2 separate regions of the Homo sapiens genome follow, and region 2 is linked to region 1. The links come from fine-mapping of genetic effects on gene expression. Tissue or cell type: whole blood. Region 1 holds a variant in brackets; the other region holds the start of a gene. All regions are shown on one strand. Distances are from middle to middle.

Region 1 (2,500 bases):
CCTTAAGCATAACTAAAAATGATTTCCGCAAAATGAGGAGGTTAATTTTAGTTGTCTCAAGGGTCTCTCTGCAATCTAAAATTTATCTAATTAAGTCCATGATTTTATAGTCCGTGAGAAAACACATTTGCATTTTGACATTAAACTTTAAAAGTGTACTGTGCACTAATGCATAGCAAAGCTATATGTCAAATAAAAATAAGGGCATTTTCCCTTTAGTAGTAGATGATTTTACAAAATCCATAAAATACAAATAGATTAACTCTACCTTAGAATGTTTGTGAAATATAAACAATGATGTTTATGATCTGGGTATTTCTTATTAGCTGCTTGAATAAAATTGCAACTTCAAATTCTATTTGCCAGCATTTGGAATAAGATTATATTCCATGAACTTAATTTAGTTCTGCTGACAAATTTCTGCTTAACTATGTCTATTCCTTTTGAGAGAATTCTAAATGTGATTGATAATGGCCTGGAATCCCTTCTTCAGGATTAAGGTGTATACAAGAATGAGGAAAATATACTCTTTGGCACAATGAGTACAGATGGCAATGTTTATTTGCTGCTTTTATTAGTAAGTTAATTTATATAGATGTCTTAACTGCAAAAATAAAATAATAGTTTTAAAATTAAGTAATTGTTTTAAAACTTGTTATAACCAAATACCCCAGACACCAAGTTGAAGAGTGGAGAGTTTGAGCAATATGAAGACCTGGTTTGAGTATTGCAAAGAGATTCCAAATTGGCACCAAATTAAATAAAAATACTCATAAAATTTTGTTATAGGACAGACAAAACTATGGTAGATGACGATAGTGTACAAATGGCCCTTATTTGGAGCATATGGAGTGGGAGCATATTTTGCAGTGAAAGAGGAACCAGAGGACAAGGTGTTCTCTACTTGTAGACTTGTAAAGACCTCTGAGTTTTCTTTATGTTATTGTAGAAAGACATTATTTTTGCTTTGGTGTGCTTAAAACTAAAGGGCAAATGATCCAAAAGAATAATCTTGAAATTCAATAGCAAGAGAACTACTTGACATTGTGGGCTGGAGGCCAGCAAACGTGGGGCTTTCATTGAATGCGTGGGAAATGGGGCAGGCCTGGAATTTAAAGAGACAGGGTGCAGTACCCTAGAAAAGAAAAGCCCTCCTGTATGATTTGCTTACTTGGAGAAAAAAAATAGACTTAAAGTTTTCTCTAAAGGATCTTTATTGGATCAACTGTTTAAGGCATTGAAAGACACTGAGTGAATTTTTCCTAACTCCACCTCCCACACTCCCTAGCCATCTTCTCTTGTCTGAAATTGGTGCAGAGTAAAATTGTTTATAACAGAGCACAAGCAGCTTTTCAAATAAAAGTACTTTGTAGCCTGTTCAAATGGAGTATAATGTAATTCTCTCTGAAATTGAGCACTTATTACTTTGTTTATGTAGCTGTTTTAAAAGTACGGGTGGGTGAAGGG[G/A]GTACGGCAGGAACCTCTGCTTTAGAAATTACTGTTTTTTTCTGAGTTTTCCTCCCCCATCCACTCATGAATCCGCCTTCACCCCTCCCCCACCTCCTGCAATCCCTCAATAAAATAGTATTTAAAAGACTTGAATAACCAGTCCTATGTACCAGCTTCTTGCTGGAGGCAATAATGTTCTATTTTCAATGGGTGGTCTTGAATCTCCATGGGAGATTTTACAGGCAGTGGGCTCCAAGACCCACTAAGTGTATTATATGAACATAACCAGCTAAATTTCCCAGCCATAGAGAATACGCAGGGATAGTTTTACGTTATTGAATTCTCGTCATTAATTACTTGCAAACTAATTTATTTAATTTTATTTGAAGAAGTATGGTTTAAGTCCCTAAAGTGAAACATATTAACCCAGCATTTGGGAGTTACTTTTTAAAACCAGTAAGCCATTCATAAGTGTGTCAGTTTAGGAATATCCATTCGTGCACATACTTTAATTATTAAATGTTAAGTAATTTGTACTCCTTTACAAAACCAACACTTAGTAATTGTCTTCAAATGCTTAATAGTTGAAGTGAGATTTCTTCTACTTAAGATGGTATAAAATGATGATATAGGACTCATAATCAGAAAGTATGTTTGATATATTTATAATCAATTAGTATCTCTTACCTATGGCATATAGTATAAATGTTATACTAGCTTAAAATCTGACTAAAATTGTTCTGGCCCAAACCTTTGTGGAAGTAAACATGATTGGAATTATGTTAAATACTGGATTAAAATTGTTCTTTAGGCGAATTACTTGAGTAAGACAATATAGTTACATATGCATCATAAATATTGAAATGGGGAATGTTGTGTCATATCTATTCCCACATAACTTAGTTTGAAATTATTTTGGAGCTTCTTTCTAGTATGAACCCGTGGTTATTAACTAGACTAATAAGCATAACTTTGTTGGGTCACTTATTTAAATTACTTTGTTTCCGTTATTCACATTCTTCAGACACTTGATTTATAAATAAATAAATAT
Region 2 (3,035 bases), 77 kb before region 1:
TCTACGCAGGAATTGGATGTGAATCAAAATTGTAAACATGCACTTGCTTGGTAGTCAAAAAGTGAATGTGGACAGATACAATGTTCGTTGACACAGTAAAACATAATCATAAAATGCATCCTGTGTTTTTAAAATAGTTACTTCCTGTTAACACAGTTCAGGAAACATGCCATCTACCCTCCTCTCCTGGAAAATCTCAAAATTATACTAATCCCATTCCTCTTCTTACAGATAGGCCACTGAAACCTGGAGTCATTACTGATACAGTTATCAGGATTACACCCTCAGAGCCACGATGGTTTCAGGGATACTAGAACCTGAAAATAACAAAAAAAAAAAAAATTTCCAACTCAAATCTAGACAATAAAACTAACATATAAACTGGAATAAAACGCAGGAAATGCCGATTTTAATACCTGGTATGAGGCTGACCATTAAGGCATCCATCAAAAAAGTTTGGAATGTATGAATGAATGACTGCATGAAATTGGCAGGATTTCATTCATTTCAAAAGCTCCAAATTCAGGAACCACACTGAGATATCAGGACGCCACAGCTGAAACTAAAACTCATGAAGGGTAAATGCAACATAACTGCACGTCTCCACGCGTTAGCTGCTGCGAAAATTTCAAAACATACATCTAACATACTCTTTCTTCAAGTAATTGCCGCAAGTGCGGACGGAGCCAGAGAACTAGGAGACTGAAAACAGGCCCTGCTCACCCATAAGCCTTTGCATTATAAGTGGACATGATCTGAGTGAGTCACCGGGAATGAGAAGGAGACAGTCACCCCAGGCCAGGCAGGACGCGGCCAGAATCTCCTGCTCTGCCCCCAACTAGGGAACCGGTCGAAGGAGAGTGGGACGACTGCAACCTGCTGCAGCTAAGTATGCAAGGATCGCGCCGACCGGCTTCCGAGTCGAGATCCCACTAAGTCCCACCGCAGTCACCACAGCCAGCCCTGCCCAGGTATCTCGGAGCTCCGTAACCTCAGAAGGCCTAGTCCTCCAGAAGCTGAGAGCCCCAGCAGGACCGGACGAGGGCAAAAAGCCCCCTCCCGGCTGCCCCTCGCCGCGACGCGGCCCTGCCGCCACATGCTCCACTGCCCCGTCTCCCAGCTCAGCCCCAGCCCCGCAGGGCCTCAGCCGCCCTCCATGCAAGCCGACCGGGCCGCAGGCGGCGCGACCCGGCGGCTCCCGAGCAGGGGTGCAGCGGTGGCAGCCCGCCGCCCCGCACGGCTTACCTCCCTTCTGCCACAAGCTCAGCCCAGCGCCGGCTGCCTGACGTGGCCCGCCCCGCCGCCTCGAACGCCCGGGGGCGGGGACTGCAGGAGAGAGCCAATGGGCTGCATATCGCGAGGCCCTGTTCCGCCTCCTCCGGCTGGGGCCCGCCCTCCCCGGCTCGCGCGCACGCGCGTCTAAGGCCCGGGCCGCGCACTGCGGTTGAAAGGCGGCGTGGGCGGCGGACCCGCGCTCTGCAGCCGAGCTGGTGCGGGGAGGGCTGCGCGCGGGGGCTGGCTGTGGAGCAGCACCGCAGTGAGGAGTTAGCCCAAGGAAAATCAGATTAAAGGAAACTGCCTAGAGATGCCACTGCAGCGTGCCCGGGTAGTCCTGTTGGCAGCCTGCCCCTATGCAGCTTTTGGCAATACAGAACAGCTTCTTGGTATTTGGAGATTTTGTTTCTCGGGGGAAATAAATAATACTGATAACATTAAGGATTCAGAAAATTTAAAGCAGACAGCCGACTTGCCGCGAAGACGCTTCGTTCTTCGCCTAATAGCTACTTGGTGTCTTTACTTCATTTGGCCAACACATAACACTGCAGCTCTCCACGCCACTGTGGTATATCCACTTGTTAGATAGTCCTGAGGTAGTTCTAGCCCAAGTGTTTCTGCTGATCTAATCTGGGGGGAATTGGCGCGAGTAATTATTCTGTTACGATTTTGCGCAATACTTACTGAATGATAAACATGTATTTTCTCGTGGGGCGGGGCAGGGGCTCCCACGTGAGAAGGCTGTAACAGACAGACAGCAGCCACGATGAAACACGCTGAAAAGAGCCAGCAGAAAAAAACGAGGAGAGACTGGTATGACGGAGTGGAATTCCGGTTGTGGATGACAGAATGGAAATTTTACGCAAGATGAAAGAGTTAAGACAAATTACTCTAAAAATATCTGACTTAGTTGTTTCTAAACCCTGGGGCACCCTTAGGAAAAAATAAAAATAAAAAAACAAGTGCCTGGGCCTCATCACTTGGTTGAAAAAGGTCTGCTGCCAGATCTTGACATTGATATTTTTCTAAGTTTCCAAAGTCATTTTAATGTGTAGACAAGAAGTTCTGTTTCTCATTTGTAGGAAGAATTTGGTTCCCCATCACCTCAGAAAAGTAATTATGTATCACAGACCGTTAACAGTTTTCCCAATAACCAACTATGCATTCACCCTCTAAGAATTTATCTAAATTAATCTTGGGGCCAGGTGGGGGGGCTCACACCTGTAATCCCAGCACTTTGGGAGGCCGAGGAGGGCGGAGTTCAAGACCAGCCTAGGCAACGTGGTGAAACCCCATCTCTACTAAAAAAAACATACAAAAATTAGCCCGGCGTGGGGTTGCGCGCCTGCAGTCACGGCTACTCTACTCAGGAGGCTGAGGCAGGAGAATCGCTTGAACCCGGGAGGCGGAGGTTGCAGTGAGCCGAGGTGGCGCCACTGCACTCCAGCCTCTGATGGAGTGAGACTGTCACAATCAATCATTCAATCAATCAATATTGAACCTACTTAAAGTTATTCAACCTCTGTTATCCTTTGCTTCAAAGGAGTTTTATAAGGCTTATAATTCCCTTTTTATGGACTTTGATGATACTCTCTTTCAGTCTTCCAAATGCACCAGTATTTCTTTTAGGACTATTTTAATATTTTTTCTTCTATTCCTATATTTCTTGAGGCTCATTAGTCAAAATTATAATTAAACACATAACTCTGTAAACAGCGCTGTTCTAAGTATATAAATTTATTTAATCCACAGAACAACTT

The links.
Region 2: FOCAD starts here. The variant in region 1 is fine-mapped to the expression of FOCAD in whole blood (TOPMed, PIP above 0.99).

What each region holds. Positions count from the first base shown.
Region 1 is chr9:20,605,382-20,607,881 of GRCh38, reverse strand. The region is part of intron 2 of MLLT3 (MLLT3 super elongation complex subunit); the gene reads left to right. Among named protein-coding and RNA genes, the nearest start is that of MLLT3, 16 kb to the left of the region's middle. The variant G/A (reference allele first, on the strand shown) is at 1,468.
Region 2 is chr9:20,682,504-20,685,538 of GRCh38, reverse strand. It overlaps FOCAD (focadhesin), which reads right to left and starts at 1,280. Exons shown (of 44, transcript NM_001375567.1): 1 at 1,246-1,280. FOCAD-AS1 (FOCAD antisense RNA 1) reads left to right here and starts at 789. Exons shown (of 2, transcript NR_121601.1): 1 at 789-971; 2 at 1,998-2,237. RefSeq lists an enhancer at 838-1,578 and a silencer at 978-1,677.